Linked DNA regions of Homo sapiens. The protein of the gene in region 1 purifies or fractionates together with the protein of each later gene. This does not show direct contact. Each region holds a gene or a part of one and is shown in the gene's direction. Other genes may lie near its edges.

Region 1 (3,748 bases):
GGATCTTCATGCTGATGACTCTCGCATCTCTGAGGATGAGACAGAGCGTAATGGCGATGATGGGACCCATGACAAGGGGCTGAAAATATGCCGGACAGTCACTCAGGTAAGGCTTCTGCACCCCAGTGTCAGGGGAAAGGTGGGAGCAGTAGATGCAGAGCAGCTAGCTGAGGAGCTGAGATAAAGTCTTTGGAGGGAACTTCCCTGTCTGTGCAGAGGGTTGGGTTGACTGACACTTTCAGGGGTCAGACTACCAAATCCAGCTGGCTACCTGTTACAAATAAAGTTTGATTGGAACACAACCACACGAGTTCATTCACTTTTGTCTGTGGCTGTTTGTTCACTACAACATCACCAGAGTTGAGTAGTTGCAACAAACTATGTGGCCTGCAAAACCTGAAGTACTGCTTTGCTCTACAGAAAAAATTTACTAACTCCTGTCTTAGTTTTCCTCAAGGCAAAGTTGAGGCACTAACAATCCCAGGATCTGGTAGAAGTGAGCCGATAACGAAATACCCCTAGCGGAAGGAACATGCTAGATTGACTGCTACTCTTACCGGGGAACCAGAGGCTGAAAAGAATATGCCAGTTTGGTGTTTAACAGACCTGCTGTGTTCTCTGACACCTTGATAGGTAGTACCTGCAGAGGGCCAGGAGAATGGGCAGAGGGAAGAAGAGGAAGAAGAGAAGGAACCTGAAGCAGAACCTCCTGTACCTCCCCAGGTGTCAGTAGAGGTGGCCTTGCCCCCACCTGCAGAGCATGAAGTAAAGAAAGGTGAGTGACATATTGTGAGAGAAATGTAATGCGGCTCCCTGAATTCTCAGAGCACCTCATTTGGATCGCTGAAAGCTTTGAATGTTTCCTGCCTTTCATTATATTTTTTCGTATATCATATCTTTCTCCTACATATTAAGTAAGCTACTTGAGGGCCAGATTTGACTCTGTTTAATCTTTGAATCTCCATGATGAGGAGGTTAGCCTAGCACAGTACTTTGCAGATTATAGGTGCTCTGCACGTTTAGATTAAGGAGTGGCTGCTTGGTATAAAAGAAAGGGAACCGTGAGAGTTACATTGAGGGTGAAAAGAGCCAGTATTGCTTCCTACCAAAAGCTGTTCTTGTGGTCTTCTTGATAGTGACTTTAGGAGATACCTTAACTCGACGTTCCATTAGCCAGCAGAAGTCCGGAGTTTCCATTACCATTGATGACCCAGTCCGAACTGCCCAGGTGCCCTCCCCACCCCGGGGCAAGATTAGCAACATTGTCCATATCTCCAATTTGGTAAGTCATTGTTTCTCACCATCCCAGCTTGCTTAGTGGTTAAGTTTGAGCTTTAGGCTTATGCCTCCTAGGTTCCACTCATAGTTGAACTGGTCTACCAATAGATTAAGTTACTCACTGATCTTGAGTGAGTTACTTAACATATTTACCCATCTAAAAATGAGGGGGAAAAGCTGTTGCCCTGCAGGGTTGTTTTGAGGACTTGCAGAAGGCCTCACATACAACGTCTCAATTAGTGCTGGGAAGCACCACCACTCTTCTCACATTCTTACTGCAAGGTTCCTAAACTCTCTGCCCTCCCCCAAACCTTGAAACTATACTCCTGTGACAGCAGCTCGGGAAATCTAAAGATTGGGTGGTGGTCTTGCCTTCTGCTAGACCCTGAAAGTCTATTTTCATTGGCAGGTCCGTCCTTTCACTTTAGGCCAGCTAAAGGAGTTGTTGGGGCGCACAGGAACCTTGGTGGAAGAGGCCTTCTGGATTGACAAGATCAAATCTCATTGCTTTGTAACGGTGAGGGGAAGAAGCTGATTCTATAGGTCATGGCATATATTTCCTTTTGTGACCAGTGTGGGCAGGTTTAAGGGTGTTGCAGCACGTGGGAAGGGTTGCAGACACACTGTGACCCTCCATCTTCTCCCTTCCTCCACCAGTACTCAACAGTAGAGGAAGCTGTTGCCACCCGCACAGCTCTGCACGGGGTCAAATGGCCCCAGTCCAATCCCAAATTCCTTTGTGCTGACTATGCCGAGCAAGATGAGGTAAGAAACCTAGGGAGAGGAAAGAGAGGAGGGGCAGGGGAAGCCATTATCTGCTAGATTTCAGCTGAGATCCTTGCCAGACCTGCAGTCTCTGAGCTTCTGTTCTTTTCTCTTCTTCCCTGGCTTTGGTTCCTTTAATTGTACCATGGGGCTTCAAAGTGGTACCTGGGCTCCTTTTTTTTTTTTTTTTTTTTTTGAGACAGAGTCTCGCTGTCTCCCAGGCTGGAGTGCAGTGGCGCGATCTCAGCTCACTGCAAGCTCCGCCTTCCGGGTTCACGCCATTCTCCTGCCTCAGCCTCCCGAATAGCTGGGACTACAGGCGCCCGCCACCACGCCCGGCTAATTTTTTTGTATTTTCAGTAGAGACGGGGTTTCACCGTGTCAGCCAGGATGGTCTCGGTCTCCTGACCTCGTGATCTGACCGCCTTGGCCTCCCAAAGTGCTGGGATTACAGGCGTGAGCCACCGCGCCCGGCCATCCTGGCTCCTTGAGTGGGAGTGATATCACCTCTATCCTAACTGTCCTTGTCCCTCCTCTCCCCACAGCTGGATTATCACCGAGGCCTCTTGGTGGACCGTCCCTCTGAAACTAAGACAGAGGAGCAGGGAATACCACGGCCCCTGCACCCCCCACCCCCACCCCCGGTCCAGCCACCACAGCACCCCCGGGCAGAGCAGCGGGAGCAGGAACGGGCAGTGCGGGAACAGTGGGCAGAACGGGAACGGGAAATGGAGCGGCGGGAGCGGACTCGATCAGAGCGTGAATGGGATCGGGACAAAGTTCGAGAAGGGCCCCGTTCCCGATCAAGGTCCCGTGACCGCCGCCGCAAGGAACGTGCGAAGTCTAAAGAAAAGAAGAGTGAGAAGAAAGGTAGGTACTTAGCTATGGGGTACGCATACCCACTAGTAGGTGGGAAAGGGACCCAGATGGGATGGGACAGAGGGTCAGATGCATCATATCTGGTTCACTTTTTTCCACCTCAGAGAAAGCCCAGGAGGAACCACCTGCCAAGCTGCTGGATGACCTTTTCCGAAAGACCAAGGCAGCTCCCTGCATCTATTGGCTCCCACTGACTGACAGCCAGGTGAGTGCTCTTCTTCGTGCCCTGCTCCCTAGTGGCACTGAGGCTTGAGGTCAGGGTGAGGGGAGATTCATGTGACTGCGAGAGTGAGTCGGCCCAAGTACTTCCTAGGTTTAGGATAAACTAAGCATCACAAAAAGGCAGTTTTCAGTTAATTGGTATAACATAGAGAAACCAGACTCAGGAGGGTAAAGATAGACACGCAGATAGCAGCTGAAGTTTGTGGATGTCTGGGAAGCTGGCTGTGCCGACCAGGCTTCTTAGAACTTGATTTTAGGCCGTGCGTGGTGGCTCACGCCTCTAATGCCAGCACTTTGGGAGGCCGAGTCGGGTGGATCACCTCAGGTCAGGAGTTGCAGACCAGTCTGGCCAACATGGAAACCCTGTCTCTACTAAAAATAACAAAAATTAGCCGGGTGCAGTGGCAAGCGCCCGTAATCCCAGCTACTTGGGAGGCTGAGGAGGAGAATTGCTTGAACCCGGGAGGCGGAGGTTGCAGTGAGCAGAGACCGTGCCATTGCACTCCAGCCTGGGCAACAAGAACAAAACTCTGTCTCAGACAATTAAAAAAAAAAAAAGAACTTGATTGTATTTAGCTGAGAAATCGTGTTTTATAAATTCATT
Region 2 (3,748 bases), on another chromosome or scaffold:
GAAAAACTTCAGCTGACTGAATACCGATTAACTGTCTTCTAACAGATGACATTTTTCCTCTGAGGAAAATTTTTAAAAATAATTTTAGTTTTGAGGCCAGGTGCGGTAGCTCACACCTATAATCCTGGCACTTTTGGAGGCCGAGGTGGGCGGATCATGAGGCCAGGATATCGAGACCATCCTGTTTAACATGGTGAAACCCCGTCTCTACTAAAACTACACAAAAATTAGCCGGGCATGGTGGCATGTGCCTGTAGTCCCAGCTACTCGGGAGGCTGAGGCAGAAGAATGCTGTGAACCCGGGAGGCGGAGGTTGCGGTGAGCCAAGATTGCGCCACTGCACTCCAGCCTTGGCGAGAGTGCGAGACTCTGTCTCAGAAAAAAAAAAAAAATTAGTTTTGAAATAATTTTAAATTTGCAGGAATTTGCAAAAATAGTGCCCCCCCAAAAAAAAGTTTCTGCATGTCTTTCACCAAGCTTCTCCCGATGTTACATGACCTTAGTGCAGTTATTGAAACGAAGGAGTTAACATTGACACAGTACTATTAACTAATTTGTCAGTCGTATTTGCATTTCATGTTTTTCCATGAATGTCCGCTTTCTGGCTTAGGCTTAGTCCAGGATCCCCCATTGCATTTCGTCATGTCTCCTTGGTCCCTTCCAATTGGGGGTCTCCTCTGTCTTCCATGCCCTTGACGCTTGAAGAGTAGTCACCAGTTATATGGTAGACTGTCCCTTGATTTGGCTTCGTTGGCTGAAGAAAATAATTTAGCAAGTATTTCACAAGTAGAGATCTCCGTTTCGCTGGTGGGGATGGTGTTGAAGGAAAAGCTGACCTCTACACGTGTTGTTTGCTTCTCAGTTTAATGGCTATGCTGGGAGCCTCTTCTCAAGTGGACCCTACGAGAAAGATGATGAGGAAGCAGATGCTATCTATGCAGCCCTGGATAAAAGGATGGATGAAAGAAGAAAAGAAAGACGGTAAAAGAAATTGTTGCCTTTCACAATATTTATCCAAGTTTAAAAAAAAGTTTTGTGGCCAGGCGCAGTGGCTCACGTGTGTAATCCTAGCACTTTGAGAGGCTGAGGTAGGACGATAGCTAGAGCCCAGGGGTTTGAGACCAGTGTGGGCAACGTAGGGAGACTTAATCTCTACAAATAATTTAAAAATTAGCCAGATGGTACACACCTGTAGTCCCAGCTACTTGGGTGGCTGAGGTGGAAGGACCGTTTAAGCCCAGGAGGTAGAAACTGCAGTGAGCCATGATCATTCCAGCCTGGTTGGCATAGTGAGACCCTGTCTCAAAAAAAAAAAAAAGTTTTGTTTTGAATTGTTTTATATTTGGAGAAAAGTTGCAATAGAGTATGTGTGTCTGCTTAGCTTTTAGGCCACCTGAGGGTCTTGGTCTGTCGTAGCCATGCCTGGATAAGCACTGGGCTGTTACAGAACAGCCTTAGGGCCTGGGGGCTGCAGTGGAGAGCTTAAGAACTCTTAAGTTTTTCCAGAAATCAGCAGAATTTTGTGGATTACTTTTACGATACATCAGGGTTACCATCTTTGAAATGAAAAGGGCCTACTGACTTGATTATTATATGTTGAGTAATTTGCAAATGAATTAAAGATGTTAAATGACACATACAAGCTACCAAGATTGAACCATGAAGAAATCCCAAACCTGAACAGACCAATAAAAGGTAATGAGATCAAAGCTGTAACAGAAAGTGTCCTAGCAGAGAACATCTCAGGATCTGATTGCTTCATTGCTGAATTTTACCAAATATTTGAAGAAGAACTAATACCAATTCTACTCAGACTATTCTGAAAAATAGAGGAGGGAATACTTCCAAACTTATTCTACAGAACCAGTATTACCCTGATACCAAAACCAGACAAAGACACACTGAAAAAAGAAAATGTTAGGTCAGTATCCCTGATGAACACTGATGCAGAAATCAGCAGAATACTAGCAAACCATATTCAACAACACATTAGAAAGATGGTTCATCGGCTGGGCGCAGTGGATCACGCCTGTAATTCTAGCACTTTGGGAGGCCGAGGTGGGCGGATGATGGGTCATCTGAGGTCAGGAGTTCAAGACCAGTCTGGCCAACCTAGTGAAACCCAGTCTCTACTAAAAATACAAAAATTAGCCGGGCATGGTGGGTGGTGTACGCCTATAATCCCAGCTACTTGGGAGGCTGAGGCAAGAGAATCGCTTGAACTCGGGAGGTGGAGGTTGCAGTGAGCCGAGGTCACAACACTGCACTCTAGCCTGGGAGACAAGAGCAAGACTCCATCTCAAAAAAAAAAAAAAAAAAAGATCGTTCATCATGACCAAGTGGCATTTTGCCCAGGGGATACAAGTGCAAGGGTGGTTCAACATATGCAAATTAATCAGTGTTATACATCATATCAACAGAATGAAGGACAAAAACCATATGATCTTTTTTTTTTTTTTTTTGAGACGGAGTCTCGCTCTGTTGCCCAGGCTGGAGTGCAGTGGCGCAATCTCAGCTCACTGCAACCTCCACCTCCTGGGTTCAAGTGATTCTCCTGCCTCAGCCTCCTGAGTAGCTGGGACTACAGTTGCCCGCCACCACGCCTGGCTAATTTTTTGTATTTTTAGTAGAGACGGGATTTCACTGTGTTAGCCAGGATGGTCTTGATCTCCTGACCTCATGATCCACCTGCCTCGGCCTCCCAAAGTGCTGGGATTACAGGCGTGAGCCACTGCGCCCGGCCTAATCATTTTAATTGATTCTGAAAATGCATTTGATAAGATTCAACATTCCTTGATGATAAAAACTCTCAAAAAACTGCATATAGAAGAAACATACCTCAGGCTGGGTGTGGTGGCTCACGTCTGTAATCCCAGCACTTTGGGAGGCTGAGGCGGGAGGACTGCTTGATCTCAGGAGTTTGAGACCAGCCTAGGCAAGAGGGTAATACCTTTTCTTTACAAAAAAATACAAAAATTAGCCAGGCTTCGTGGCACACACCTGTAGTCCTAGCTACTCAGGAGGCTGAGATGGGAGAATTACTTGAGCCCAGGAGGCAGAGGTTGCAGTGAGCTGAGATCATACCACCACACTTCAGCCTGGGCCACAGAGCGAGACCCTGTCTCAAAAAAAAAAAAAAAAAAAAGGGGGGGGGAGCATAACACAATAAAAGCTATATACAGCTGGATGGGGTGGTTCACGCCTGTAATCACAGCCCTTTGGGAGGCCCAGGCAGGCAGATCATTTGAGGTCAGGAGTTTGAGACCATCCTGACCAACATGGTAAAACCCTGTCTCTACTAAAAATCCAAAGATTAGTTGGGTGTGGTGGCTCAGGCCTATAATTTCAGCTACTCAGGAGGTGGAGGTTACAGTGAGCTGAGATTGTGCCACTGCACTCCAGCCTGGGCAACACAATGAGACTGTGTCGCAAAGAAAAAAAAAAGCCACATATGGTAGGCCCACAGCTCGTATCATACTGAATGGGGAAAAACTGGAACGCAACAAGGATGCCCACTTTCACCACTGTGATTCAACATTGTACTGGAAGTCCTAGCTAGAGCAGTCGGACCAGAGAAATAAATAAAAGGGCATCCAGATTGGAAAAGAAGAAGTTAAATTATCCTTGTTTGCAGATGATATGATCTTATATTTAGAAAACCCTAAAGACTCTACCAAAACACTATTGGAACTGACAAATTGATTAAAGTTGCAGGCTATGCCCCCAGGTGTGGTGGCTCACACCTGTA
Region 3 (3,748 bases), on another chromosome or scaffold:
CCTCAAAGACATATTAATTTGCACATTTTTCTATTATTATAAATCAGTTCCCAAAGGATATCCTAGTATTTGGAGTTTGGAATTCAGAGTTCTCTGAATAACTGAAGAGAAGCTATTTTGTGTATTACTAAAGATAACTTGATTCAAAATAATTTTTTTTTTTTTTTTGAGATGGAGTCTCACACTCACCAGGGCTGGAGTGCAATGGCGCGATCTCGGCTCACTGCAACCTCCGCCTCTTGGGTTCAAGCGGTTCTCCTGCCTCAGCCTCCGGTGTAGCTGGGACTACAGGCATGCGCCACCACGCCCAGCTCATTTTTTCTATTTTTAGTAGAGACAGGGTTTCACCATGTTGGCAGGCTGGTCTCAAACTCCCGACCTCGTGATTCGCCCGCCTCGGCCTCCCAAAGTGCTGGGATTCCAGGTGTGAGCCACTGCGTCCGACCTCAAAAATTTTCATTGGCCCAATACGCATTTATTTTTGAGATAGAGTCTTGCTTTGTACCCAGCCTGGAGTGCAGTGGCATAATCTCGGCTTACTGCAACCTCCACTTCCCGGGTTCAAGTGATTCTCCTGCCTCAGCCTCCGAGTAGCTGGGATTACAGGCACGCGCATCCATGCCCGGCTAATTTTTGTATTTTTAGTAGAGATGGAATTTCACCATGTTGGTCAGGCTGGTCTCGAACTCCTGACCTCAAGGTGATCCGCCCGCCTCTGCCTCCCAAAGTACTGGGATTACAGGCATGAGCCATCCCTCCCAGCCGCAATATACATTTAAAGGAATTTTGGGACTATTACTACTATTCATGTTTTTTATTGATCTGCTAATAACAGTTCCAAGGCGATGAGTATACAGTGTTAATGGAACACAAATCTCTATTATTTCCTTTCAAAGTATCCAGGAAGTGCCTGTCTTCTTAAACATTTGATTTTATTAACTCATTCTTCTTACAGTTTTAAATTTCTTTTTAGGCGATGAATATACAGTGTTAATGGAACACAAATCTCTATTATGTCCTTTCAAAGTATCTAGAAAGTGCCTGTCTTCTTAAACATTTGGTTTTATTAACTCATTCATTTTTCTTACAGTTTTAGATTTCTTTTTAAGCAACCTTTCTTCCTGCACACTGACCTATGTCTTACTTAAGGAATTTTTTTTTTTAGAAGTCTCGCTCTGTCGCGCAGGTTGCAGCGCAGTGGCGTCATCTCGACTCACTGCAACCTCCGTCTCCCGGGTTCAAACGATTCTCCTGCCTCAGCCTCCCGAGTAGCTGGGGAGGCGCCCGCCATCACGCCCGGCTAATTTTTATATTTTTAGTAGAGACAGGGTTTCACCATGTTGGCCAGGCTGATCTTGAACTCCTGACCTCAGGCAATCCACCTCCCTTGGCCTCCCAAAGTGCGGGGTTTACAGGCGTGAGCCACCGCGCCCGGCAAGGAATTAATATTTTACTAAAACAGTTTTTAGAAACACCAGGGAAAGGCTCAGGGCTAAGTATTTTATTCCAGTTTGTTCTAACAGCCACGCCATAGCAGACGTGTGACCACCTCCACCAGCCCTACGAGGGGTAGAACTGAAGCCAAGGCCCCAGTCACGGGCCGGGCTTCAGAATCCAGGCTTCCCTGCGGCCAGCGCCGCTGGCTCCCTGCTCCCCGAGATCGCCTCCCCAGTAGCTGAGAATACGCTGAGTTTTTATGGTTTCACATTCAGACTAAGCCGCCCGCGACCTTGTAGGTAAAGATGAATCCGAATGGGTCGGCGCGCCTGTTTCCTAGGGTACTGCTTTCGGGCGCTTTCTCCTGAAGTTGACACTTCCCAGCCGAGGAGCCTTAAAGCCCCACGCAGCGGAAGGAACGCGGCCCCGGCGGCGGCGAGACAGGCCTGCTCCCGGCCGGGAAAGGCGCACGAGAACCAGGACGCGTCCACGCCACTCGGGGCGGGCGTTCGCCCCGAGCACGCCCACCTCAGACGCCAAGGAGGCTGACCGCAGTCCGGTCGACGATGGGCATGGTCTCTACTTACTTTCCGCCCAGGCTAACCTCTAGCGCATTTTGCTAATTTGGGTCTGAATCGCCATCACCGCGGGCAGCGCAGCCTTAGCCGCCAGCCCTACAGCCGGGAGGGAATGTAATGTAAGGTTTGGCGCCTCGGGGCGGATCCGGCTTGCACAGTCAGTTAAGGAACCAGAGTATCGCGAGATCCGGGGTAAAGGGGCGGGAGGAGCGCGCGTGCACGCGCCCAGAGCCGTTAGGGTGGAACTCCACTCGGGCGGGGCGGGCGGAGTGATACAGCTGGACGCCAGTTGGTGGAGCCCCCGCGGGAAACGACTGAGCGCGAGGAGCGTGCGCGCTCCCGTCGTGGCGACGGTGGCGGCGAGCGGCGTCAGAGCTTGAGGGGGGGTTGACGGCTTCTGGCGGGTGGCGGTGTTGAAGGCGAGAGCTTGCTTGGCCCGTGTCGCTTCTGTCCCAAGAACCGGACGGAGAGTGAGGGCACGAGGGTCGCTGTCGGGGGCTGTCGTCTTCCACGTACACGTCGTCGTGAGGAGCGCAGTCCGGACTCTTCCCGCAACCCCTCCGGCTCCCTTTCCGCACGCCTCGAGGCGGCGGCGGCCACCGAGACAGCAGCGCACCTTCCCCCATCCCTTCCCCTTATCCCCCAGCCCAAAAGGGCCCGGTCTGCGCCCCACCCCCGCCCGTCCGCCCGCTACGCCGCCGCCATGTCGGCGCAGGCCCAGATGCGCGCGATGCTGGACCAGTTGATGGGCACCTCCCGGGACGGTAAGTCTCTGCCAGGGCCCTGGGGGTGGGGGAGGGGACGGGGACGGCGAAGGGAAGGGGTTCCGAGGGCGCACCTGGGCGCGCGCGTGTGGCTGAGTAAGGGGCTCCCAGATTGGTAACACGAGGTCCCCGTCCCCCGTCCCATCCAATCAGGGCTCGGCAGGCGGGCAGGGGGGGCGGTGACCATGCGGATTGGCGGGAACTGCTGCCAATGGGGTGAGGCGGGGCCTGGAGGCAGAAAGGAGAGTTTGTGCTTTTAATGTTGACTTGGCTGAGACGGGAGAGCCCGCGTCTCTGTTGCGTAGTTGGGGGGCCCGTTTTGTCGCTGGTTAGGTACCTGCGGAAAGCTAAGGCCTCCACCCCCGATATAATTCCTTAACCCAGAGCTTTGGGATCATCCCTCGCCGCCGTCCTCCAGAGTACCTAGAGAGAAGCTTCCCCCTCCTCTTCCTGGGTCAGGAGGAAACCTTTATTACTAACCCAGTCTCAGAGATGCACCCTCGAGCCCCACAGAAACAACCATTTTTATGGAAAATCTGACCCAAACCATGGTTTCTTAAGTGGGTGTGTTTGGCCCCATTTTGTGAGAAGGAACATGTTATGGCCTGTTTTTCCGAGAGACCTCCATTTTGTTAGACAATTTAATAGAGGCTTTGTTCAGTAAATATTGACAAATGTTGCATGTCCCTAACAGAACGATTTTGAAAATTTGGTACCCAGTGAAGTAGAATAGAGGAGAACAAAGATCCTTTCAGGCGTTTAGTTTAGAATCTGTATAGAGAGCCCTTAATTGCTGGATTATCCTTTGTCATAAAGAGAATTTCTAAATAAAATGATGAAATGCTGTTGCTTTTTTGGTGATGTTAATTAGTAATGTACTCTCAAATTCAACTTAAATACATTCAAATATGTAGGAAAGGTCTAGTTCATTACTTTCTTAACACAGCAAAATCCTTGGTAGTTTTTATG

Evidence for each region.
Region 2: the proteins of ACIN1 (region 1) and PRPF6 purify together in Homo sapiens (co-immunoprecipitation; 2 studies listed by BioGRID and IntAct, with this or other methods). This does not show direct contact.
Region 3: the proteins of ACIN1 (region 1) and LUC7L2 purify together in Homo sapiens (affinity purification with mass spectrometry; 5 studies listed by BioGRID and IntAct, with this or other methods). This does not show direct contact.

The regions. Positions count from the first base shown.
Region 1 is NC_000014.9:23,060,463-23,064,210, reverse strand, and holds part of ACIN1 (apoptotic chromatin condensation inducer in the nucleus), read left to right. Parts: coding exon 1-106; intron 107-633; coding exon 634-775; intron 776-1,136; coding exon 1,137-1,282; intron 1,283-1,687; coding exon 1,688-1,795; intron 1,796-1,935; coding exon 1,936-2,043; intron 2,044-2,588; coding exon 2,589-2,913; intron 2,914-3,026; coding exon 3,027-3,127; intron 3,128-3,748.
Region 2 is NC_000020.11:63,984,045-63,987,792, forward strand, and holds part of PRPF6 (pre-mRNA-processing factor 6), read left to right. Parts: intron 1-862; coding exon 863-981; intron 982-3,748. UniProt on the Homo sapiens protein: Involved in pre-mRNA splicing as component of the U4/U6-U5 tri-snRNP complex, one of the building blocks of the spliceosome.
Region 3 is NC_000007.14:139,357,544-139,361,291, forward strand, and holds the start of LUC7L2 (putative RNA-binding protein Luc7-like 2), read left to right. Parts: upstream 1-2,350; 5' UTR 2,351-2,718; coding exon 2,719-2,779; intron 2,780-3,748. UniProt on the Homo sapiens protein: May bind to RNA via its Arg/Ser-rich domain.